Homo sapiens: one gene and its partners. The protein of the gene in region 1 purifies or fractionates together with the protein of each later gene. This does not show direct contact. Each region holds a gene or a part of one and is shown in the gene's direction. Other genes may lie near its edges.

Region 1 (7,768 bases):
AGAGCCATCGGGGCAAGGGAATTCTTGCTCAGCTGGCTTTACAGCATTCTTGCTAACACAGCAAAGGTGGGGGATGAGAAACTCTGTCAGATAGTAAGAATGATCAGATGTCAAGAGTTGGGGGATTCTTGCTAAACTGACTTATCAAGACTCTTTGCAAAGACTGGGCTGGGCAGGACAGAATGAGGGCCAAGGTCAATGCCTAGTGAAAACGAGGGCTCAGAACGGCCTGACTAAAGTTTGGTCAAGGAGGTAGTCTTATCACTCTCCGCTACTCAGCGCATTCTCGTCTCGTTCAGAGTGAAATCCACTGACACAGAACCCATTAAGAACCTCCACGTTCTGCCCCCTTGCCTAGGATCTCCTACTGTTCTCTCCCTTTTCTTTCTGCTTCAGCAACAGTGTCCTTATTGTTCCTTCAACAAGCCAGGCATGCTCCCACCTCAGGGTATTCGAATCCGCTTTTCATTCTGCCAGAAAGACTTCCCACAGATACTTAAATTGGCCCATCCCTCATCTTCTGCAGGTCTTTCTTCAAATGTCACCCTCTCAATGAAATGTTTCTTAACCACTTTGTGTAAAATTGCAAACTCTCCCACCCTCCATGTTCCTGTTCCCTTTTTAAATTCTTGTTTGCACTTACAGGGAAGTTTAAATTTTTCCCCTGAAGTTTCGATAATTTGAGTCTATAAAACAAAATGATACATAGCTGAATAGGAAAAAAAGGCATACAAATTTTATTAAAGTTCATACAAGCACAGGAGTGATACAACATACAAAAACTCAAAGAAAGGCAAGGTAGTTGATATTTTTATACCATCTTGAAGTTACAGGAAGAACAGGGGCTTGGATCACGGCTAAGGCGGGTTATAGGAGGGAGAGAAGAGGAAAGACCTGAAGAAAAGGTAGACTCATTATGCAAATGAAGCTGCACAGGTAGCAGCCTAAGAGCAAATGGTAGCCCGTGGTTAAAGTTTGCACCAGATTTTCAAAGGTGTCAGACTCTCAGTTAGTCTTTCTCAGATCTGGACGAGGGGAGAGCCTCAGAGAAAGCCTATTCACATCTGTTGTTGACTGCACTTCATTTCCTCAACAGATGCAAGTCTCCTCTACAAAAGACAGCTTTTCAGGACTATTCCTGTCTGCAAGCTCTCTGAATAGCCATCTCAAGATATGTCAGGGAAGTATGTTTTGGAGTGAATTATTTTGGTTGCCTTCACACTCATCTCTATCTCAAAACGTATTTATTCCTCTTATTATCTTTCCTCTCTCTCTTCCAGTAAAATTCAAGCTGCATTTGTGCACAGGTTTTGCCAGTTTTGCCCACTGGTGTATTTCCAGAATCTGGCACAATGCTAGGCACAGGATAAGTGTTCAACATAATTTTTGTTGTTGCTGAATGAATCAATAATGAAATCCTATACAGTAATGAAAAGGAATGAACTTTGCATGTATCAAGGTAGACTAATCTAAAAGTGTTTGTGTTGAACACATATATACACATGATACATATATGCATGTATATACACATGATATATATACATATATACACATATAGGCATATACACATATATATGCAGAAATCTTTATATAAAGGGTATCTGCTATATACATACATATTGTATATTGTATAAAAGTTGAATACAATGTACAATTGAAACTATACAATTGTATATTGTATGTATATAGCAGATTACCTTTATATACATACATATTGTATATTGTATGTATATAGCAGGTTGTCTTTTTATAAAGATTTAAAATGTTGCAAAAGTAAACAATGTTTAGGGACACATGCATGTGGAGTAATTATCAAACAAAACAAAGGAATGCTGAAAGCAACTCAGGAAAATGACTTGGGAGCACTGTGAACAAGGCTTCCAAATTTTGGGTAAATTTCTCTTTGGTAACCCAAGTGTTGGGTATGTGGGTATTTGTTTTATTATTATTAAACCATGGGCCTCGCACAGTGGCTCATGCCTCTAATCCCAGCACTTTGGGAGGCTGAGGTGGGCAGATCACGAGGTCAAGAGATCAAGACCATCCTGATCAACATGGTGAAACCCCATCTCTACTAAAAATACAAAAATTAGCTGGGCATGGTGGTACGTGCCTGTAGTCCCAGCTACTCAGGAGGCTGAGGCAGGAGACTGCTTGAACCTAGGAGGTAGAGGTTGCAGTGAGCCAAGGTCGCGCCACTGTACTCCAGCCTGGCGACAGAGTGAGACTCCATCTCAAAATAAATAAATAAATAAATAAATAAAAACAAAAATCTGTGCCTATGAATACATTATCTCCTGTGTATGGTACACATTAAAAGAATTTAAAATAACATAACTATCTTGTGGTTTTGATTTGCATTTCTCTGATGATTAGTAATGTTGAACATTTTTCATATACCTGTTGGCCATTTGAATGTCTTTTTGAGAAATGTCTATTCAGGTCCTTTGCCTATTTTTTTTTTTTTTTTTTTTTTTGAGGCAGGGTCTCACTCTGTCACCCTGGCTGGAGTGCAGTGGTGCTATTTTTGCTCACTGCAGCCTCAACCTCTGGGTTCAAGCAATCCTCTGCGCTCAGCCTCCTGAGTAGCTGGGACTACAGGCCTGCACTGGCATGCCTGGCTAATTTCGTTTATTTTTTGTAAAGACAAGGTCTCACTATGTTGCTGAGGCTGCTCTGGAACCCCTGGGCACGAGTGATCCATCCACTTCCGCCTCCCAAAGTGCCGGGATTACAGGCATGAGTCATTGTGCCCAGCCCTTTGCCCATTTTTAATGGGACTCTTTGTATACTGTTGTGGTTTTTTTTGTTTTGTTTTTTCTTTGAGATGGCATCTCGCTCTGTCACCCAGGCTGGAGTGCAGTGGCATGATCTGAGCTCACTGCAACCTCCACCTCCCAGGTTCAAGGAATTCTCCTGCTTCAGCCTCCCAAGTAGCTGGGGTTTCAGGCATGCACCACCACGCCTGGCTATTTTTGCATTTTTAGTAGAGACGGGGTTTCGCCACATTGGCCTGGCTGGTCACAAACCTGTTATTTGAATTCTTTGTATATACTGGGTATTAGTCCTTTGTTGGATGAGTAATTTATAAATATTTTCTCTCAAGTTGTTGCTTCACTCTGTTGTTTCTTTTGCTGTGCAGACACTTTTTAGATTAATATAGTTGTTTATTTTTCTTTTTGTTGCCTGTGCTTTTGAGGTCTTAGCCACAGACCTCAAAAGCACAGGCAAGAAAAAGAAAAATCTTTGCCTAGATCAATGTCCTGAAGAGTTGTCCCGATGTTTCCTTCTATCAGTTTTATAGTTTGGAGTCTTTAAATCTTTAATCTATCTGGAGTTGACTTTTATATATGTTGAGAGAGAAGGGGTCCAAGTTCATTCTTCTGCATATTATTATCCAGTTTTCCCCAGAACCATTTATTAAAGACGTAGTCCTTTCCTCATTGTGTGTTCTTGGCACCTTTGTTGAAAATCAGTTGGCTGTAAATGGGTGCACTGATTTCTGGGTTCTCTTATTCTGTTCCATGGGGGGGTGTGTGTGTCTATTTTTATACAAATATCATGCTCTTTTGGTTACTAACACTTTCTAATTAGATATAAGCTCACTCCAGTTAGAATGATTATTATTATAAAGACAAAAAAATGACAGATGCCAGTGAGGATTTGGGGAAAAGGGAACTCTTATACACTATTGGTGGGAATGTAAATTAGTACAGCCACTATGGAAAACAGTGTGGAGGTTTCTCAAAAAACTAAAAATGGAACTACCATACAATCCAGCAACCCTACTACTGGTAAAGGGAGAGAAATCAGTATATGAAAAGGATACCTGCACTCACGTTTGTCACTGCACTATTTGCAGTAGCCAAGATATAGACTCAACCTACCAGCAATAGATGAATGGGTAAAGAAAATGTCATACATAGACACAATGGAATACTATTCTGCCATAAAAATGAATGAAATAATGTATTCACAGCAACATGGATGGAGCCGAAGGTCATTATGTTAAGTGAAATAAGCCAGGCACAGAAAGACAAGTACTGCATGTTCTCACTTATATTCGGGAGTTAAAACACTTGATCTCATGGACATAGACAACAGGAGGATAGATACCAAAGGCCAGGAAGGCCAGAAAGGAAGGGGAATGAAGAGAGGTTGGTTATGGGTACAAACATACAGTTAGATGGAAGAAATAATTTCTAATATTTAATAGCAGACTAGGGTGACTATACTTGGCAATAATATTGTGTATATTTCAAAGTAAATCGAAGAGAGGGCTTGAAATGATACCAACGCATAAAAATGATAAATGCTTAAGGTGATGGATACCCCAAATACTGTGACTTGATGATCATTACAGTCTATGCACGTAACAAGCACTCACATGGACCCTATACATTATGTAAATTATTTTGTATCAACAGAAAAGTAATCACAACCAGCGGTGGGAGCTACAGCACACTGATCCTCCTAAATGAATCTAATTTCCGGTTTTGTTTTTTCAAACTACTCCGCTTGCTTAACAAGTGCGCGGGCTGTAGGCAGCACGGCCAGCAGCTGGAGACCTCCTGCCTCGTGTGCGGCGTGCGTACTCCCTCGCACTGCAGCCCCTCCGCGCACTGTCGCCTTTGAGAGCTCTCGTTGGCGGAGGCGGTTCCTCTCCCGGAGTTCGCAGCGCGCACCGCGGCGTCCCCTGGGAAGTGTAGTCGGCGTGGGGCCGGAGGCATGCCGGGAGTGGTAGTTCTCCCGCGGTTGGCGGGGTTTCGGGGACAGCTCGCGGCCTTTCGGGGGTTCTCCTGGCTTGGGCCATCCAGGCTTGGCTAGGATTGCCGGCCTGGGGTTGAGGCGCTCGCAGTGGTCTCTTCCGGGCCGGGGTGGATCCGGGCCTCTCCAGCGAGTGGGCGGCGTGCAGCCTCGTCTGGGCTTCTGGGACCAGCCCTACGCGGCTCGGGCCCCTTGGCCACTGGGTCCCGGGGCGCCGTCCGCGAGCGGCCTGGACTGCCGGAGACCCGCGGGAGGGAGCGCCTCGCCAGGTGAGCTGGGTGCGCCGGGCCGCTGGGGTGGGGATGCCAGCCTTTTGTCGTTGTTCATTCTGCGATTTTCTTCTGTGCATTTTCTTCTGAGTAACGGAAATAATAAAAGCAATAGCTGATGCCCGCCGAGAGCGCTCGGGTGCCAGGCACCAGACTAGCGCATCGCCCGAACGAACTCCGCGCATCCCTGCTAACAGATAGGGTGGCGGTACGCTGTTCCCGCTCTGTCAGGAGGAGACCGAGGCAGAGTGGCGAGGTCATTGCCCCAGATGTAACTGGGGCCTGGGGCTAGGATCAGGATTGCCTTCCCGGCCCTTATGACTTTGGGCAGGTCACGACCTCCTGGTTTTCAGTCTCCGTAACATCTGTAAATGTGAAGATTGAAAATACTGCGTGGAAAACACTCACCGCTTCCTGGGAGGAGGTGCGCTTCGTCGCGTAACCGAGGCCTTGTGTGGCAGCTTCCCCTGGGCTGGTCGAGGCACCCGCTGGAACTGGCCTGGCAGAGCCCCAGGTTGGCTCCATGCTAGGGGGCACCCTGAGTCGCCGCTGCAGATCGCGGGCCTGGAGGCCCTCACACTTGCCCGGCTGCCCCAGGCAGCCTCTTCCCTTGCTTTCTGTGGGGCGGGCACGGTTTCCACCTCTCCCACCTGGGGTTGGTGTTTGGGCAGCGACGGCTGTTTCTGGTTGTGGGTGCCATTAGAGGCGGCACCTGTGGAGTATTAGGAGGGACAGCAAAGCTCTGGCTTTGGGTGGGGACAGTGCCTTAATCCTGTTACCTTGGGTAAAGTGTGGTAAGGCCCGACGAAGATCTAGTAAAGAGGCTGGGAAAGCTGAGTGGTTGGATTATGCTCACAGTTTCTTGGGGAGAACACAGCACTCCACGGAAGGACCACTCAGGGCGAGCAGTGGGGTCTGTCACCAGGGTAGGGATGCGGGGAAGCCTCTTTATCGTGGCTACCATAGGGAGGAAAGGGTGAGGCAGGGCAGGCAGGATGAGGATCAGCTAGCTAGGCTGGGAAGTGGCGCCCCAGGAGACTGGATATTCATTGCGACTTTTAGGTGTGCAGTTCAAAGCTAGCGAAGGACTCCAGACATCCATGGGGGAGTCACGGTTTGCCTAGAGGTAGCTGAGAGGCCCGAAGGTGGAAGTTAAAGAGTCCAAGTGCAGAAATAGAAGTAGGGTTGGCACATTGCCCTAGTAAACTAGTAAACACTCTTCTTGCTTTACATCATTACGGGGGGTGGCTTTTTTGAGACCTGATGGACATTATGGGCGGTTGTAACTTCCTCTCTCCAAGCCATCTCCTGACGCCAGGGTTCCTCTTGACACCTTTTTCCTCTGCAGACCCACCGTGTCCACACTCTGCTCTCCCTGGGCAGGAAGACTGAGGAGGAAGGGATGGCTGTGGATCTGCTGTCTGCTCAGGTGAGAGTGAGTGAAGGTTGTCTTTTTCATCAGTTGGCTTCTGGATTCAGAGATGGTAGACATGTTTCCAGACTTTGTCCAGGTACTTTTTGGTCCAACCAAAACGATGAAGAATCCGGAACCTCAAAAGTTTTTCCCAGTGTCTTGGGCTTAGCAAGGGGCTGCTGAGGAATGTGCCTCTTTTGTCCCGAGACTACTCTTAATTCACCCCGCTCACTCTGTGATCCACATTTGAGGCAGTTCTGAGCATATGCTTCCCACTACACTGGTGCTGGGTGGGGAGAATGGGGCATGAAGCAGTCTCTGTCTTCATAGAGGATATAGTCACACTTGGGGCTAAGATGTGGAAGGGCCGGAAGACAGCCTCCACAAGCATTTATTGAGCCCTATGTACAGGATCCTGTGCAGCACACGGGATGGAAAGAGGAAAGCTGTCATTTCCATCTTCTGGGAGTTCGTGGTATCGATCTTAGGAAACATGATTAAATGTTCAGGGGAAATATCCCAGAAGTGGGGGCATTCTGAGTTTATACTGGAGGCCAGGACTGATATTGGTGCTTAGAGAAGACTAAGGGCATCCCAGAAGGAGTTCAGCGTGGTTTGGGCTTTGAAGCCCAGAAGGAGGCAGGCCTGGGGCCTTCCCCTCCCAGTGCAGCGGGGATGTTAAGCTGTCCAAATGTCCATCTCACCTGTCTGATTGATTCCTCTATTTCCTTCTCTGATTCTTTTCTTTTTTCTCTGCTAGTTTAGCCTCTCTACCTGGGCTCTTTTTTCTTGTTCTTTCCCCATTTAAGATCCATTTTCATTACTTTAACCCTCAGCGTTCTGAGTATCTTCCCCAAATCTGTCCTCAGGCCTGACCTTTTTCCTAGCATTCCTGTCTGTCATTCCGACGTGGAAGTCCCATCTTTCCTTCAACACCAGCTCCCTTTCCTCTAGTCCCCTCCCTTCTGTGCATTTTTTCTGCCATACTCCAAAGCCTATTCTTCATTGACTCCTTTTCCAATAGCCCATAGGCTGGAAATGTGGACTCAGGAGCTTGACTTCATGGCTTCAAATCCAAGCTAGGGATGTAGCCCTGAGCAAGTTATTTTATCTCTCTGTACCCCATTTCCTCAATTTTGGTGGGGTTAATAATATACATACATGACTGAGTTGCTATGAGCATTAGTAACAGTAGTAGCTGGGCACAGTAGCTCACGCCTATAATCCCAGCACTTTTGGGAGGCCAAGACAGAAGGATTGCTTGAGCCCAGAAGTTTGAGACCAACCTGAGCAACATAGTGAGGCCTTGTCACTATAC
Region 2 (3,983 bases), on another chromosome or scaffold:
TATATTAATTGATGGAATTTTACTGTATGTGCCTCTGTACAAGATGTAGCTTTGAGAGCTACAAAATGATAACACTGCTTTATTACACACTGGTTTCATTGTCATTGCAAAAACTTACCCTGGTTGTGGGGGAGAGTTCTAGATCTGTGCCATGATCCATACACTGGCTAATAGAGTACATAATTTTTCCATTTTCCATTTTTTGTTTTTACTTACTACTGAAGGATCTCAGATGTAAAATTATGTATTTGGTTTGAGATGGCCACTTATTGTCCTTAAAAATCCATACTGATATATGCAGTCATTTTGAATTGGACAGTGCCTTCTCTTTTTTTTTCTCCTCTTCTTCCATCTCCCTCACCCATGCCCCCACCCAATCTAAAGAGACAGTGCTGTACATTCTCATAGAGATAGAGAAGATCTAAAAAGTTGAGACTACTCAATCCAGTTAACAACAGCAGGAGCACTAGAGTTTGTTCATTTATTCTCTCTGTAAAACAAGCTGTGCTTTTTTTCTTCTGCCTTTAAAATGCCACCCGTGTATTCAAACCATGGCCACTTGATACTTATGTAGAATCCATCGTGGGCTGATGCAAGCCCTTTATTTAGGCTTAGTGTTGTGGGCACCAATGTCGAGCATCGTTGTGACTTGTGCTGTATGATTCTCACTGAAGAATTTCCTTTCAGCCAAGAAGCAGTGAGGTCTGGGAATATTCCAAAGTCATGTCTCTGAATATGTGTCCTTGACGTGCAAGCTTTGTAAAACCCCATCCCCGCTTAGGTGCGAGGCATCACCTTCTCACAAGTGTTTAGTTTCTTTTAACCACAAGTATCATTCTTGGGTGATAATATAGTTTCATTCTACTTAGGGATTGTTTAGAAAACAAAGAAAGAGCCAATTAAATTTTTTAGTTTTTGAAATTTTTATTTATATGTATACTTAGATGAGTATTTTAAGCTGTCGACCTTTAGTTTGCCATACGGGTAGGACTGTATTTCATGTTAACAACTGGTGGTAATGATAAGCCTTCTTCTAGCGTATTTTCTCTTCTTTCCTGTCACTTTCCTAAGTTTTTTTTTTTAAAGACTGGAATTTTTTTTGGCTTTATCTTGTCTTACCGTAGAGATTTGTTCAAAACTCTAAGCCCTACCACCTCCCCTTTAATAAGCTCTTTAAATAGTTGAATCATTAACAACCTGGTGGGAGGCAAGTCATTTAATTGAACCACTAGGAAGTGTATTTTCTTTTCTTTTTCTGCCAACTTTTTGGTGGCATTTGTAAAAGCTGATATAAAAGGCTCTGAGATGTTATTTTCAGTTATTCCATAGGCAAGCCTTTTTACAGAGCATATGTCTCCAGTTGGCAGCTTGAGATATTTCCGAGCATCCGGTTCTAGCTACCAGTGCCTCCCAATGCTTAGTGCACAGTACTGTAGACTGGCCATCACCCCTCTCCTTGGAAAATGCCACTGTGCTGTTTGAAAAAAAGCAGCCTTTTAGGGCTAGAGTATTTTATATAAACAGAAGAGCTAAGTTCCTGAAGACTAAGCTAGATAGCTGCAGCTATATGTAAATTGTATATTTTTATGAACTTTTGAAGCACACACTCCTGTTTCCCTCTGTGTAGCTTTGTGGGGATTTCATGTATATATGCTGTCTGAAAGAATCCAGAGGTTGGAGTGCCAATAGAAAATGAAAACAAATGCCTTGTACTACAGGCAGCCTCTGAAGGTGACCACATAACTGTCTTCACTGTGACCAATCGGAGTCCCTGCTTGCTTGTGAAGAAGGGGCTTTTGTACCTTGTTGGAGATGCCACCTCAGAAGTTCACACTGTGCAGGAAAAAGGTTTTATTCTCTCCTGGCATACATTAGAATGTCAGATGCTTGCATCCATGTGGACCACGATGGGCCTCTAAAAATTGGTGGGCAGGGGGTTTGCTTATGAGTTTTCTCTGGAAACCGATTTTACTCCTGGATGTATTGAATGCCCCTTGAGCTTTATGAGATACGAGTCCACATGGATAAAATGTTAGAGAGTGGAGTTCTACAGAGGATTCCAGGAAGAGGCCATGTCTGTGCAGTCCTAGTTCCAGACAGGTGAGAAGCTCCAGGAACTACTGGCTACCTTGACAAGCTGGGTAAATAGTTATCATTCTGGGTAACTGGTTGAAACTCTGACTTTTGGACAAGTAATTCCTGGGGTTCTGTCTTTGGTAGCATCACCAGGGATATTTGGGTGGGACAGACAGAAGACACACAGCTGCCTGTTCTCTCCTGCCCATCATGTTTGGCCCACTAGATGAAGCTGTACTCAGCAATTTAGGGAATGTAACCCTTCTCAGAACTGGCCATTTTCAGGGGAAGCTTGGGAGAGCAATAGTATGGTGAGCCCCTTAGAGATGAGCGCCTACTCCTTCTTGGCGAATGCTGCCTTCAGATGCTTACCAAGTGGTCACTGCATCTAGTAAGATTATATTTCCAGTACACTTCCTTAGGGCAGAAACACCATCCTATCAGGTTTGGTCAGTCCCTTCTTCATGAAGGGAGTCATGGGGAATTCCTGAAAATTTTCTTCCTTCTGCAGACAGTTGGATGAGTCCCTTAGAGAAGGCATCCAGAGACATAACTAAACTGAATATCATCCCATATTGATTTTAGGAATTGACTCTAAAACTCTGTGCAGAATCTTGTGTTGGGATTGTATCTTGACATTCCTGTTGTGTTATTTTTCTTAACTGGAGTGTGTGCTGCCTTTCAGGTACAATTTTTGTGTAATAAAAGCCAGTGCATTAAGTTTATATAGACTACTTTCTATGCAAGACTGAGATATGGAATAGATAGGAAGAGATATGTACTGCTGGGTACATGGACAGTAAGTGTGTTTTCAGATGGAGTACCAGCACCGAAAATGGGTTGAGGGAGGATGGGTTGTATGTATGTTTCTGCCCACTAATTTTGAGCAGCCATATTATGAATTAAATCGTCACAGCCAAGTAATAACCCAAGAATGGTATGAGTTTCATGTGTAATAGCTCAAATGGAATAAGCATGAATGCTGGAGTGGACCATTATCCTCAAATATTCTATGTCACTTCTCATTTAAAGACTCTTGTTATGAACTATTAGAAACTTTAGGCAAAATCAAAAGTATTTGCGGCAAAATAAAGGCCTATTCTACTCTTATTTAAAGTGAAACACTGTATACTTGTTTCTCTCCAAAGCGAAATTAAGTATTTATAATTTCAATTGCCTCGATAAGTTTCCAAGTCACTGAAATCTGCTGAAGGTTTTACTGTATTGTTGCACAACTTTAAGATAATTTTTGTCTCAATGTCAACTTTTTTCACTGAATAAAAATTTAACTGGGTCAAGAAAACACCTCTTTGAAAATCCACTGTCTCTGTGTGTCTCGAGCTGTTCTTTAGAGCGCAATAAAGATGGCTGACGCAGTCTCCAAACCCCATTTGATTGGTCTGTTTTAAACGGATGTTTATTTCATAGATGAGAGAACACCAAGGCCTGGAATAATTTTGTTATTAACAAGCTGGTCTCAGATGGTGGATCCTTGAAGAACACGATGTCTTTGTGTTGGTTGAGGAGGGGGAAGATGTGCTGGCTGTTTTGAAGTAAACAGAATTATTCCGTAGGGACAATGACTAAAGTGGCTCCCTTAAATTTGTAACTACATTTGCTAAGAGACAGTTTGCTAAGAAGGCAATTTTCAAATCTAAGAGACGGAAGCACAGCAGTATAGATGAGCTGTGTGTCTAAGAGCACTTCTATGGGTTTCCATAGACAGTCTTGTGAGGAGTGCTGCGTGTACCTATTATGGGCAGCTGAATGGCCATGGGCCTGTAAGTCAGGATTGGAGGCTGTGGAACTGGGTGGGGGAGGGAGGCAGGTTTTTAAGAATTTAACAGGTCTTCTGGTATGCTGCTTTTGTTTAGACACTGAGCCAGAGCCAAACCCTGAAGTATTAT
Region 3 (7,033 bases), on another chromosome or scaffold:
GACCTCCTGGCCCAAGGGATCCTCCCACGTAGCTGGGACCACAGGCACCTACTACTGCACCCTAGCTACTCAGGAGCCTACGGGTTTGAGGCCACTCGGCTGATTTTTTTATTTTTTGTAGAGATGGGGGTCTCACTTTGTTGTCTAGGCTAGTCTTGAACTCCTAGGCTCAAGCAATCCTCCTGCTTTGACCTCCCAAAGTGTTGGGTTTATAGGCATGAGCCACCACACATAGCTTTTTTTTTTTTTTTTTTTGAGACTGCAGTCTTGGTGTGTTGCCCATGCTGACCTGGGCTCAGGTGATCCTCCCATCTGAGGCTCCTGAGTAGCTGGAGCTGTGCGCCACCGGGCCCAACTAATCTAGTCTCTTTACTCTCTAATCTGGAACATTTCCTCAGCTTTTCTGTGACTTTATTGACATTTGCATTTTTTGTTTGTTTGTTTTGTTTTGAGACAAGAGTCTTGCTCTGTCGCCCAGACTGGCGTGCAATGGTGCGATCTCAGCTCACTGCAATCTCTGTCTCCCGGGTTCAAGCAATTCTCCTGCCTCAGCCTCCCAAGTAGCTGGGATTATAGGCACCCGCTACCACGCCCAGCTAATTTTTGTATTTTTAGTAGAGACAGGGTTTCGCCATGTTGGCCAGGCTAGTCTCGAACTCCTGACCTCAGGTGATCTGCCCACCTGGACCTCCCAAAGTGGACATTTGCATTTTTAAAGAGTAAAGGCCAGTTATTTTTTATAATGTCTCTCAACTTGGATTTATCTAATGTTTCCTTGTGATTGGATTCAGAGTGTGCATTTGCAGCAGGAATACTACACTAAGTGAAGTCATGTCCTTGAGTTCTCAGTGTGTCTCATCAGTAGACACAGGTGTTGGCCTGTTCCGTTATTGTGATACTTACTGCCATTGTATGGTTAAGGTAGTGTCCACTGTAAAGTTGCTATTTTTTAATTTTGTACTTAATAAGTAATTTGTCCAGAGATACTTTGAGATGATGTGAGTAATAGATGACTTCCAACATCTTCCAATAAAACCATCACACGACCCTTAGAGCCAGGCATGATCAAGTCACAGATTGATAGAGCAAGGCTCAGAGAGATTTTATAAGTAGCTCTTACTGGAGGTCACCCAGTAGGTGTTAGTGGGAGAGCTGCTTTCTGAGTCCACAGTGAGCTCTTTGCCACTGCTCTGTACTGTCAGACTTTGTTGAAGATGACACAGTGTTGGGGCCCTGGCAGGTGCTGATTGGAAGCCAGCTCCCCCACCCATTTGGGCTGACCCTCTATGGAGAGCGCATCTATTGGACTGACTGGCAGACCAAGAGCATACAGAGCGCTGACCGGCTGACAGGGCTGGACCGGGAGACTCTGCAGGAGAACCTGGAAAACCTAATGGACATCCATGTCTTCCACCGCCGCCGGCCCCCAGGTGAGCAGCCCTTGGCTCGCATTGGCTTCTCCGTGGCCCTCCTATGCCCTAGCTCTCCCCATTGAACATCCCCTCCTCTCTACCCAGTGTCTACACCATGTGCTATGGAGAATGGCGGCTGTAGCCACCTGTGTCTTAGGTCCCCAAATCCAAGCGGATTCAGCTGTACCTGCCCCACAGGCATCAACCTGCTGTCTGATGGCAAGACCTGCTCACCAGGTGAGTGAAAGCATCACAGATCTAGATGCAGCCTCTCTGGGAGGGGGCAATGGCTCTCTTCCTTCCTTGCAGATGGGCTCCAATGTGGTCTGAGAAACCATGAGTCCTGCTGCTTCTAGAGGCCCAGGGGAGAGACTCACGGCTTTTAGAAAAGGGGACGGGCCTGGGGAGAGGCCCTGGGGAGCAAGTAGAAAGGACTGGAGGCAGGGTCCAACTAGTTCTTATGATGTCTTCATGCATATTAGATAAAGATGCTCCTTTCTCAAGACACTTTCCTCTCATCTCTTAGTACATTGTCATAATATACTGATTTGGTTGGAATAAGACACTTCTGGCTGGGCACGGTGGCTCATGCCTGTAATCCTAGCACTTTGGGAGGCCAAGGCAGGCAAATCACTAGAGGTCAGGAGTTCAAGACCAACCTGGCCAACATGGTGAAACCTCGTCTCTACTGAAAATACAAAAATTAGCCAGGCATGGTGGCGCGTAATCCCAGCTACTTGGGAGGCTAAGGCAGAAGAATTGCTTGAACCTGGGAGGTGAAGGTTGCAGTGAGCAGAGATCACGCCACTGCACTCCAGCCTGGGTGACAGAGTGAGACTCTGTCTCAAAAAAAAAAAAAAAAAAAAAAAGACACTTCTAACTGCCCAAAATTGGTATAATAAAAACAGAAATGTATGATATCTACAATGTCACAGTACCCTCCTCCTTAGATGTGCCACTTTTGTGAGTGCACAACCTATGTGACAACCTTATTGGAGGGTCCCAGAAGCAGTACCTGGCTACCCAGATGTCGGAAGTCAAGGCTTCTCCCTAGGAGATGCTGCAGGGTAGGCTGCATTTGAACTCTAACCTCCCTGGGAATTTGAGTGAGAAAGGAGCTGTGAACTGTGCCTCTCAGGTTGTGAGTAAAGCCCCCTGGGGTCCCTTTATTCCCTTTCTTTTTTTCTCTTTCTTAATCTTCATGGTAAAGGGTCCTTCAAAGAGAGCCACTTTCATAATATTAATAAAGAGGCATTATTTATGAATATGTGTGAGACCTAATGGTAAGTGCTTTATGTACATGATCTTTTAACCCTTACAGCCACCCCATTATTGTCCCCATTTTATAGATAAGAAAACTGAGGCCTAATAATTTAAGCTGAGAGTAGTGGCTCATGCCTGTAATCCCAGCACTTTAGGAGGCTGAGGTGGGCAGAGGCTTGAGCCCAGGAGTTTCAGACCAGCCTGGGCAATATGACGAAACCCCATCTCTACAAAAAAATACAAAAATTAGCTGGGCATGGTGGTGTGTGCCTGTAGTCCCAGCTACTCAGGGGGCTGAGGTGGGAGGATCGCTTGAGCTCAGGAGGTCAAGGCTGCAGTAAGCCATGATCATGCCAGTGCACTCCAGCCTGGGCGACACAGCAAGACCCTGTCTCAAAAAATAATAATAATTTAAATAACTTGCCTAGAATAACATAGCTAGAAACTAGCAGGGACAGGGCATGAGTTTCAGTTTGCCTGATTCCAAATCCATTTAATGGCTGTGCTCGAGTGATCCTCTTCCCTCCTCTCCACCTGGCAGGCATGAACAGTTTCCTCATCTTCGCCAGGAGGATAGACATTCGCATGGTCTCCCTGGACATCCCTTATTTTGCTGATGTGGTGGTACCAATCAACATTACCATGAAGAACACCATTGCCATTGGAGTAGACCCCCAGGAAGGTCTGTATGGCCCTCTCTTCCCACCTGGCCTTCTGTCCCTGCCCTTCAACAATTACTGTCTTTCCTCTCCCACCACCTTTGTCTCCTGCCAAGAGCCAGGGTGTTTGTTCCCCATTCCCTCTGGCATAGCCCCTGTCCCTGTCTCTCTAGCACTCTCTCTTTGGTTGTGAGAGCATGGTTTGGGGCCCTCTTCTCTCCGTCTCTGCCAAGAGCTATCCTGCTATGATATTTCTGCGTTTTCCTTGATTTCCTCTGCTAGAGGCTCCAGAGCTCTCTGACATGCTCTGGTGTTTCAAGACATGAATCAGCTGTGTGTGTCCCATTGTAGGCGGTGAGGGTCTAGGTTGAGCCAAGCTTTCCCTCTCCAGGAAAGGTGTACTGGTCTGACAGCACACTGCACAGGATCAGTCGTGCCAATCTGGATGGCTCACAGCATGAGGACATCATCACCACAGGTGGGCCTTCCTCCTAGCCCAGGGACCACCTGTCTGGCAACAGGGCTGGGGAAATAGCCCATCTGTTTTAAAATAGGAGCCAGTGTGCTCTTTTGACTTCCCACAGGGCTACAGACCACAGATGGGCTCGCGGTTGATGCCATTGGCCGGAAAGTATACTGGACAGACACGGGAACAAACCGGATTGAAGTGGGCAACCTGGACGGGTCCATGCGGAAAGTGTTGGTGTGGCAGAACCTTGACAGTCCCCGGGCCATCGTACTGTACCATGAGATGGGGTGAGAGCTGGCTGTATCGCACTGGGTAGTGTGGGGGGCCAGCTCAGCTGGGGTTATGACGGGGTAAAGGTGGGTAGTGGAGAGGAAGCTTGCATCACAGAAACAAGGTGACCTCCCTGGGGCTCTTCCACTCTCTTGTGACTTCTCGCAGGGTGACAGTACAGTGTAGAAGTTAAAAGCATGAGCCTTGAATCAGAATACCAGGATTGAAATGTTTTCATCATGTATTAGCTATATCACTTGGGTCCGGTATTTAACCTCTCTAATTCTCAGCTTCCTTACCTATTAAATGGAGGTGGTAGTGAAAATACATACCTTGTGGCCCTTATGAAGGTTGAGATAATGCACATGAAGTATTTTGCAAAGTACTTTGTCAAGCAAAAATTTTGCCTGACATACTGTAAGTACTCAAGTGTATCTGACATACTGTTAAGTATTCATGGTATGTGGTAGCTGCTGGAATAACTAGCTAATATAGCTAATATTCTTCCTCACTCAGGTTTATGTACTGGACAGACTGGGGGGAGAATGCCAAGTTAGAGCGGTCCGGAATGGATGGCTCAGACCGCGCGGTGCTCATCAACAACAACCTAGGATGGCCCAATGGACTGACTGTGGACAAGGCCAGCTCCCAACTGCTATGGGCCGATGCCCACACCGAGGTGAGAGCCGTGTCCCTGCTGCTTCCCAGGAGCCTGGGAAGATGGGAAAGGCCTGCCTAGGATCTCCATGGAGAGTTCCCAATCTGCTGATCACCACCCCCCACCCTCTCCTTCCTCTGCAGCGAATTGAGGCTGCTGACCTGAATGGTGCCAATCGGCATACATTGGTGTCACCGGTGCAGCACCCATATGGCCTCACCCTGCTCGACTCCTATATCTACTGGACTGACTGGCAGACTCGGAGCATCCACCGTGCTGACAAGGGTACTGGCAGCAATGTCATCCTCGTGAGGTCCAACCTGCCAGGCCTCATGGACATGCAGGCTGTGGACCGGGCACAGCCACTAGGTGAGAGTCAGAGGGCTGGGGCTGTGAGTCAGAGCCTCTGGCTTTCTGGGGCCATCTCAACATCAGAGATATATCCAGAGCACAGAGCTCCTTTACAGCCAGAAAGACGGTGACCTGTTTAAGCTCCCTTCCAGATTGGGCTGTGTTCTCTCTGGGTATGGCTGGTACTACAGCTGTCACCTTCAAAGGACTCCTGGAGATCCTCCTGCAGACCCTCCTTCTACCTCACCCTGCCAGGCACTGAATCCTGTCACTTAGAACAGCAAAGAGCCAGCCACAAACAACTGGGACCTTTGTAAGATTCAGATGATGTTCCAGGCTAGGTGTGAATACTTGTGCTTCTCATCACCAGGTTTTAACAAGTGCGGCTCGAGAAATGGCGGCTGCTCCCACCTCTGCTTGCCTCGGCCTTCTGGCTTCTCCTGTGCCTGCCCCACTGGCATCCAGCTGAAGGGAGATGGGAAGACCTGTGATCCCTCTCCTGAGACCTACCTGCTCTTCTCCAGCCGTGGCTCCATCCGGCGTATCTCACTGGACACCAGTGACCACACCGATGTGCATGTCCCTGTTCCTGAGCTCAACAATGTCATCTCCCTGGACTATGACAGCGTGGATGGAAAGGTCTATTACACAGATGTGTTCCTGGATGTTATCAGGTATGAGCAACACTGAAACCTCCAGAAGACACAGATTTGCTTCTGGTCGCCCATGGGTGAGGTTGTGTTCTGACCACTAAATGGATGAGTGATTTGGCACTTTGGATAGTGAGTTTTAATCCTGACTTGTTCACTTTGTAGTGTTGTCACTTACAGCAGAGTTTCAAACTTTCATTTGTTTAGAGATTATATGGAAGCCTAGTATGTAAAACAAACAACAACAACAAAAAAAACAGGTAAAGTCAGGGGACCTGGAGACTTTCACATCTACCATTGTGCCCTGAGGGAGCTCCAAGAATCCCCTAGGACTTACTGATGAGTAGGCCATATAACCAGTATCTGTATTGCAGTAAAGGAGCCCCAATCAAATGCCAAGTCTTATGGTGGTTTACAAAGCTGTTGTTTTTTATTTTTTCGTTGTTTTATTTTTAGTCTTTAAATTTGTGGCCCTAACACAGCTTAGGAATATGATGTCCTGCCACCAGTAAGAGTGGTTTACCATGGCAGATATTCTCACATGGAGGAACAGGGAACATTCCCCTTTGCTCTCCCCAAGGGATGTATTAGAATCTCAAACTGGGGACAGGTAGGCATATACAGTTTAGGGAAGTCCCCTAGGTGACAGTGACATGCTCCCCATTCTGAGGTAGAGTTCCCTCCTGCCCATAGGGCCTTTGCAAAAGTGCACAATTAGGGTCTGGCGTGGTAGCTCGCGCCTATAATCCCAGCACTTTGGGAGGCCAAGGCGGGAAGATTGCTTGAGCCCAGGAGTTCAAGACCAGCCTAGGCAACATAATGAAACCTCATATCTACTTGTATTTAAAATTGTTTTTAACTTTTAAAAAATGCACAGGTTGGTTTTGACAAATCTGCGTTTCTTATCATCACCACCTAGCAATCCTTGTCTCTTCCCAAAGGTATGTGGGGAATGATAAACTTGTCTTCTAGCAAGACATCCCCTGGCAACCGCCACTATGTCCAGTTAGCAGGAAATACTGTGTCCTCCTAAGAACTGGTTCCTTCATTCTGCAATTATTTTATTGAACATCTATCATGCTGGGTGCTGAGGAATGTACTCATAGATACCTGGTCTCTATCCCTGTGGAGCTTACAGTTCAGTGGGGTCCAGTTATGGGAACATGGGTTAAAGTTCTACTCTATTCTGGGTCAGTCTGGTTGCTCATCCAACACTGGGCTCTCCCCAAGGCGAGCAGACCTGAACGGCAGCAACATGGAGACAGTGATCGGGCGAGGGCTGAAGACCACTGACGGGCTGG
Region 4 (7,033 bases), on another chromosome or scaffold:
CATCTATCCATCCATCCTCCGTCCATTCATCCATCATCCATCCATCCATTCACCCATCATCCATCCATCCATCATCCATCCATTCATCCATCATCCATCCATCCATCCATTCACCCATCATCCATTCATCCAGCCATCATCCGTCTATCCATCCATCATCCATTTATTCATCCATCATCCATCCATCCATCCATCATTCTTCATCCTTCCATGCATCATCCATTCATCCATCCATCATCTACCCATGCATCCATCCATCATCCATCCGTCTATTCATCCATCCATTCATCCATCCATCATCTATCCATCCATCCCATTATCCATTCACCCATCCATCCCTTCATTATCCATCCATCCATCCACATATCCATCTGTCATTAATCCCTCCACTGTCTATCCATCCATTCATCCAGACAGCCAGCCATTCATCTATCCATCCCCCATCCATCCATCCATCCTTCATCCATTCACCGTTTTTCTATCCATCCATTCATCCATCCATCCATCTGTCATCCATCATCCATCCTTCTGTCCATCATCCCCCTACCTGTCCTTCCCTCTTTTATCTCTCTGTCTACCCATTCTTCCATTCATTCAACAGAATCAGAGAACTCCAATTGAGTCTGGTGCCTTGATTGTGAATCTAGGCATGTGGCAGGCAGACCCCTGTCCCATACAGGGCATTTATGATGAACAGTGTCATCAGGACCCCTGCTCACATGTGCTCACTCCCCATGGAGAAGCCCTTGCCACTTGTGCCCCTTCATTTGGGAGAGTGAGCAGGGGACATAGCAGGGATGATGTGCAAGGCCACCAGCCCACCTGCAGGGTCAGAGCTGATCCCCTCTGTGGGGTGCTTCTGCAGGGTTGCCAGGGTAATTAGCATGTTAAAATGAACACGGGAGGGAGTGGATGCCCCAGTCCCAAGTCACCTACTGGCCACAGGCCTGGAACTAGAATGTCCCTCCTTGGTTCTGTGCCTCCCGAGTGCTGGAGAGCAGAGGGGTTGTCTGAGCAGTAGTCCAGGAAGGGGAGAAAGAGCCCTGAGTGTTGAAGATTCGAGTGCGCTTTCAGCAGCGCAGGAGCAGGCTTTGTGCACGGCTTCAGCTTTTGTCCTTTATTCTAGATGAGCAGTTCTCAAAACTTGTGGTCTTGGGAATCCTCTACACTCTAATTTACGTGGCGTTTTTAATGTTTATTTTCTTGCATATAACATTAGGATGGGCCAGGCACAGTGGCTCACGCCTGTAATCCCAGCACTTTGGCAGGCTGAGGCAGGCAGATCACCTGAGGTCAGGAGTTCAAGACCAGCCTGGCCAACATGGTGAAACCCTGTCTCTACTAAAAATACAAAAATTAGCTGGGCGCGATGGTGGGTGCCTGTAATCCCAGATGCTCGGGAGGCTGAGGCAGGAGAGTCGCTTGAACCCAGGAGGCGGAGGTTGCAGTAAGCTGAAATCACACCATTGCACTCCATCCTGGGCAACAACAGCAAAACTCTGTAAAAAAAACCAACCAACCAACCAAACAAACACAAAAACACATTTATCCTAATGTTTTTTATATATCCTTAGTCCCAATTGCTTTCTTTTCTATGCCTTTTTATTTCATTTTTTAAAAGGATTTTTTTCAAAATAATTATAGACACAGGAAGTTGCAAAAGCAGTACCAAGAATTTCTCGACTCTTAAAAATTATTGAAGGCCTTGGCTGGGTGCGGTGGCTCACGCTTGTAATCCTAGCACTTTGGGAGGCTGAAGTGGGCAGATCTCTTGAGGTCAGGAGTTTGAGACCAGCCTGGCCAACCAGCCTAGTTTCTTTAGTAGAGAAACCCCACATGCCTGTAGTCCCAGCCACTCGGGAGGCTGAGGCAGGAGAATCACTTGAACCCGGAAGGCAGAGGTTACAGTGAGCCAAGATTGCACCTCTGCACTCCAGTCTGGATGACAGAGAGTCCATCTCAAAAAAATAAAAATTACTGAAGGCCTTAGAGAGCTTTTGTGGATTACATCTGTTGATATTTATCACATTAGAAATAAAAGCTGAAATGTTTTAAATGAACAGTTCATGTTAACATAAGTAACATTACACTTATGAAAAATAACTATTTTCTCAAACAAAAAATTTTAGTTAAGAATCTTATTGGCTTCCATTTTTGCAAATCTCTGTAATGTCTGGCTTGACAGAAAACAGATGGACTCTTGTAGCGGTTTTCTGCATTCACTTGTTTTTTCGTTTGTTTGTTTGTTTTTCTTTTTTAGCCTCCCAGGGCTTCCTCGCTATGTGATGCCTTGTTTTATTGAAGTTTATGAAGAAAACTGGGCAACACAGTGAGATCCCATCTCTACAAAAAATAAAAAACTTAGCCGGGCGTGGTAGCACATGCCCGTAGTCCCAGCTACTCAAGAGGCTGAGGTGGGAGGATTGCTTGAACCCAGGAGGTTGAGGCTGCAGTGAGCTAGGATCACACCACTGCACTCCAGTCTGGATGACAGAGAAAGACCCTGTCTCAAAAAAACAAAAAAAAAGTTTTCACTCAGTGTCTCCCTGAAAAGTCATTGGGAACCCCTGGGGGTCTACATTTCAAGAACCATTCCTCTGGATCGGGGTTTCTCAGTCTTGGCCTTGTTCCCGTGTGGCTGGCCGTCCTGTGCACGGGAGGATTTTAGCAGTATCCCCATAGCCTTTACCCACTAGATGCCAGAATTCCACCCCCCACCTGGTAGTTGTGGCAACCAAAAATATCTCCAGATACTTCCAAATGCCTCCCCTACTCCCACCCCCAACAGGGACAAAACCGTCTCTGGTTGGGAACTACTGCTGTGAGATCTTAGGTGACAACTAAGTTTCATCTTGTTGGGGCTGATTTAGAAGCCACATCCAGTTTCACAGAACGGTGCATCAGGATTGATTAGCAGGCTGGCCGCGGTGGCTTGTGCCTGTAATCCCAGCACTTTGGGAGGCCGAGGCAGCTGGATCACCTGAGGTCAGGGGTTCAAGACCAACCTGGCCAACATGGTGAAACCCCGTCTCTACCAAAAATACAAAAATTAGCAAGCCATGGTGGCATGCGCCTGTAATCCCAGCTACTCAAGAGGCTGAGGCAGGGGAGTTGCTTGAACCTGGGAGACGGAGGTTGCAGTGAGTTGAGACTGAGCCACTGCACTCCAACCTGGGCAACAGAGCAAGACTTCGACTCAAAAAAAAAAAAAAAAAGAGAGCTATTGATTAGCAATGTCTGCCATGAGTGCAGGAGGGAGAGTAACAGTGCAGTGTGCTGGGATTGATGAATGATGTCTACTACAGATGCAGAAGAAGAAGCACCAGGTACAGCGGGGGTGGCCCCGTATAGGTCTCAGCTAGCTGAGGCCCCTGGGGCTCTGTATGCCAGATGGCCCCTGTCCTTGCCTACTTCTTCCTTCTGGGCTCCTCTTCCCGTAGGTGTTCATTGAGGATGTCAGCAGGGAGTTTGTGGAGGAGTTCATCTGGCCGGCCATCCAGTCCAGCGCACTGTATGAGGACCGCTACCTCCTGGGCACCTCTCTTGCCAGGCCCTGCATCGCCCGCAAACAAGTGGAAATCGCCCAGCGGGAGGGGGCCAAGTATGTGTCCCACGGCGCCACAGGAAAGGTGAGGCACCTGGGAAGGGCCGGGCAGAGGGAGATGGAGGCGGAGGGGTGTGGGAAGGAGATGAGCACCCCTCGAGCGGTTTCCTGGTGTGCCTCCGGGGCAGACTTGGTGCAAGGCAGCTACATGGCTTTGTTTAGACCCCAATGAGAGGGGTAACAGCTCGCCCCTGCGCTCTGTGCACTGTGGCACCTGAACGCCCATTCTGAGTCCTCACCTCCACCTTCTGCTGTGGGAGCGATGTCACCCCATTTGGCAGACTTGCTGCTGAGGCCTGGGGACATTGTCCAAGGTCGCATTGGCCAAGGTCACTGCGTGAGTCCCCCAGGGGACACGCAGGAAAGTGTTGAAAACCCTGAGTTGGCAGAGTAGGGTTCAAAGGCAGCTCTGCTGCTGGCTTGCCGTGTGTCCTCAGCCAGGGCCCTTCTCCCCTTCCTGAACCTCAGTTTCTTCATTTGCAAGATGGGGCTCATGCCATGTCTTAGTTTCCCAGGGCGAGGGTAACAAAATGTCTCAAACTGGTGGCTTAGAACACAGAACTGTTCTGCCTCATGGTTCTGGAGGCCTGAGGTCCATAGTGAGGGCATGGGCAGGGCCACGCAGCCTCTGAAGGTGCCAGGAAGCCTCCGGCTCAGGCCTCTCTCCAGCTTCCAGTGGCCTCTGGTGTCCCTTAGCGTGTGGCTGCGTCACTCCTGTCCTTCCGTCCTCCATCTTCCCAAGCTGTCTTCTTCCTGTATCTCTGCATTGTCTTCCCTCTGCTTGTCTGTTTACCTTCCCCTTGCTACAGGAACCCGTCTTGGATTAGGGCCCTTCAATGACCTCATCTTAACTTGGTTACTTTTTGTGTGTGTGTGTGGGGGAGAGGGACAAAGTCTCACTCTGACGCCCAGGCTGGAGTGCAGTGGCTCGATCTTGGCTCACTGCAACCTCTGCCTCCCAGATTGAAGCAATTCTCCTGCCTCAGCCTCCTGAGTAGCTGGGATTACAGGTGTGTACCCCACCACACCCGGCTAATTTTTTGTATTTTTAGTAGAGACGGGGTTTCGCCATGTTGGGCAGGCTGGTCTTGAACTCCTGACCTCAAATGATCCACCAGCCTTGGCCTCCCAAAGCACTGGGATTACAGGCGTGGGCCACCATGCCCAGCCTTAACTTGGTTATTTCTGTTAAGACCACATGAGGCCACATTCGGAGGGACTGGGGTTAGGACTTGAACCCATTATTTTGTGGAAACACAAATCAACCCATCCCGTACCCCTTCCCTCCGGGCCGTGTGTCCCAGTGCAGACTGCGGGGTCCCCGTGGGGTGCAAGACAGGAAGCCCCCTGCCTGCTGCTCTTCGGAAGGCAGTCCTTGAGAAACCAGATTCCTGACAATGTTGGCAACTGTCAGCCGATGTTTTTATAAAGACCCAAGTCATGAGCTCTCAGTCAGCGGACAGCATGCCAAGAGCCTGGTACAGGAATTGACTGTTTACCAACCCCACAGTCAGAAGGCTCGGAAACTCCCCAGTGACGGGGAGCTCACTACCTCGCCTGCCCGGGCTGGTCAGGGTGCTGATGGTGGGAAGTCCTGGCTCACTGTGGGAGGTCCTGGCTCACTGTGGTGCAGGGACACACACAGCTAAGATGATGATGGAGGAGACGCGGTTGATTTGAGGGTGGCCTGGGAGACAGCCACCCACCAGGATGGCACCTGTCATGTCTTTGAAAGTCCAAGTGTTCATTTCTTCACCGGAGCACTGGTTCAGCAAGCTTGCACTGGGTATCTGCTGGGAGTTGGGTGCTTGCTGGCATTGGCACAGTGCTAACTTCTTGGGCTCATTGCGTACCTTCAGAGAGCCCATTTCCTGGCAAGAGAAGAGAAAATGGATGTGTGATGAGGAATGGGAGTGGGGCCAGGGGTCTGTGCCAGGGAACTGCGGGAGCAGCAGGCAGGGGCTGAGGATGAGTCTAGAGGAGTGAATAATGGCATGGAAGAGTGTGAGAGGCAGAGGGAACAGCCTGTGGAAAGGCTTAGAGCCAAGAGGCCCTGAAGGACAGTCTGTCTGGGGCTGTGGAGCAGGAGCTATTGCTGTGGGGGAGGCAATAGGGCCAGGACTGGGCTGAGGCCATGCTGGGAGGTTTGGCTTCATCCTGAGGGCAACTGATTAGTGGGTGGAAGGAGGTCTCAGGTTGGATGGAGGTGGCCAGTGACTACCCCAGCGAGATGCTGGGGAAGAGACAGGGGAGAGCTTCTCACAGACTGCGGCCTTGGTTTTTACTGTCACTCCAGCTGTGGATGATGGGATGGTAGGAAACCAGGCAAGGAGGTTTGGGCGGGCCTGAGCTGTTGGGCAGGACCGTGTGTATGCTGCCATCTGTGCAAAGGTGGTGGCAGAGGAGGAGAACCCAGAGGATCAGGACTGGGCGACACAGCGAGACTCTGTCCCAAACAAAAAAAAAAGCTCCCGACCCATCTGCCTTAATGGAAAGAGCTGGATCGTGAGCTTCCTATCCCAGAAGGCATACAAGCCGAGGGCAGGGGATCAGAATTCTGGGAGGGGTCCTGCCCTCAGGTCTTTCCAACGGTACCATTAAGGTTCAGTAGGGCGGCATTCAGGTCTGGTGGAGTGCATGGGTGGGTGGGTGAGTATGGGTGGGTCGGCTCTGGCTCAGGCAGTTCCCGGGTCCATGCGGAGACCCCCACCCCGGACCAGCCCACATTTAGCCTGCAACAGCCTCCCGCAGCCGTGTGCGCCCCTCCTCCATGTGGCCACCAGAGGGCGCCAGAGGCTTGGGTTTGAGGCCTTGGGGGCCGACAAAGGCGGGAGGAGGTGGCGGCACCACCGGGGTCCTCTGTTCCCCATCCTGGACCTGCAGGGCGTGGTTCTGAGGAGAACGCCCCCCAAGCTAGTGCTATGGCCGCTCGGGACTTGGGGGCGTCCCTGCATTCACACTCAGAAGACCCAACAGGGACGGACTCCGGGGATGCCGGGGAGTAGGTGCTACCTGGCACAGCCACCTCTTTCCTGGGGTTGACAGGCAAGGCGTACTTCTGCGCCTCAGTGTCCCTTTATGACAGTACCCAGGAAACCCCCAACAGCCTCTGGAGACAATTTCCGAGAACTGGGGGTATGAGTGGAGAACCAGGAAGGCTGGGAGCGAGGGGAATCCAAGGCCTTGGAGGTGCTGGTCCAGCCTTCAGGCATTTACCCCCTGAGTAACCACCCAGCACCACCATCCCATGAGTATCCACCCAGCACTGCCCCGGGCGCCATCACGGGGGACGGGCCAGGTGGAGGCTTTCGGGTCTTTGGGCTCAGGGAAGGTGACAGTGAAATGTTGGGGGGACAACGGATTGGCCTGGGATGTGAGGGGGAAGGGCATCCTGTTTGCTGGAACCGCCTGAGCCCAGCCCTGAAGGCA

What was found.
Region 2: the proteins of ZNF354C (region 1) and SORL1 purify together in Homo sapiens (affinity purification with mass spectrometry; 2 studies listed by BioGRID and IntAct, with this or other methods). This does not show direct contact.
Region 3: the proteins of ZNF354C (region 1) and LRP4 purify together in Homo sapiens (affinity purification with mass spectrometry; 2 studies listed by BioGRID and IntAct, with this or other methods). This does not show direct contact.
Region 4: the proteins of ZNF354C (region 1) and ASS1 purify together in Homo sapiens (affinity purification with mass spectrometry; 2 studies listed by BioGRID and IntAct, with this or other methods). This does not show direct contact.

Annotation. Positions count from the first base shown.
Region 1 is NC_000005.10:179,055,631-179,063,398, forward strand, and holds the start of ZNF354C (zinc finger protein 354C), read left to right. Parts: upstream 1-4,742; 5' UTR 4,743-5,036; exon of another isoform or gene 5,037-5,460; intron 5,461-6,384; 5' UTR 6,385-6,438; coding exon 6,439-6,465; intron 6,466-7,768. UniProt on the Homo sapiens protein: Transcriptional repressor that inhibits endothelial angiogenic sprouting. Suppresses osteogenic effects of RUNX2 and may be involved in osteoblastic differentiation.
Region 2 is NC_000011.10:121,630,298-121,634,280, forward strand, and holds the end of SORL1 (sortilin-related receptor preproprotein), read left to right. Parts: 3' UTR 1-3,466; downstream 3,467-3,983. UniProt on the Homo sapiens protein: Sorting receptor that directs several proteins to their correct location within the cell. Along with AP-1 complex, involved Golgi apparatus - endosome sorting.
Region 3 is NC_000011.10:46,873,523-46,880,555, reverse strand, and holds part of LRP4 (low-density lipoprotein receptor-related protein 4 precursor), read left to right. Parts: intron 1-1,240; coding exon 1,241-1,430; intron 1,431-1,517; coding exon 1,518-1,649; intron 1,650-3,216; coding exon 3,217-3,357; intron 3,358-3,725; coding exon 3,726-3,812; intron 3,813-3,918; coding exon 3,919-4,090; intron 4,091-4,589; coding exon 4,590-4,752; intron 4,753-4,874; coding exon 4,875-5,100; intron 5,101-5,452; coding exon 5,453-5,756; intron 5,757-6,139; exon of another isoform or gene 6,140-6,962; coding exon 6,963-7,033. UniProt on the Homo sapiens protein: Mediates SOST-dependent inhibition of bone formation. Functions as a specific facilitator of SOST-mediated inhibition of Wnt signaling.
Region 4 is NC_000009.12:130,454,961-130,461,993, forward strand, and holds part of ASS1 (argininosuccinate synthase), read left to right. Parts: intron 1-3,440; coding exon 3,441-3,629; intron 3,630-7,033. UniProt on the Homo sapiens protein: One of the enzymes of the urea cycle, the metabolic pathway transforming neurotoxic amonia produced by protein catabolism into inocuous urea in the liver of ureotelic animals.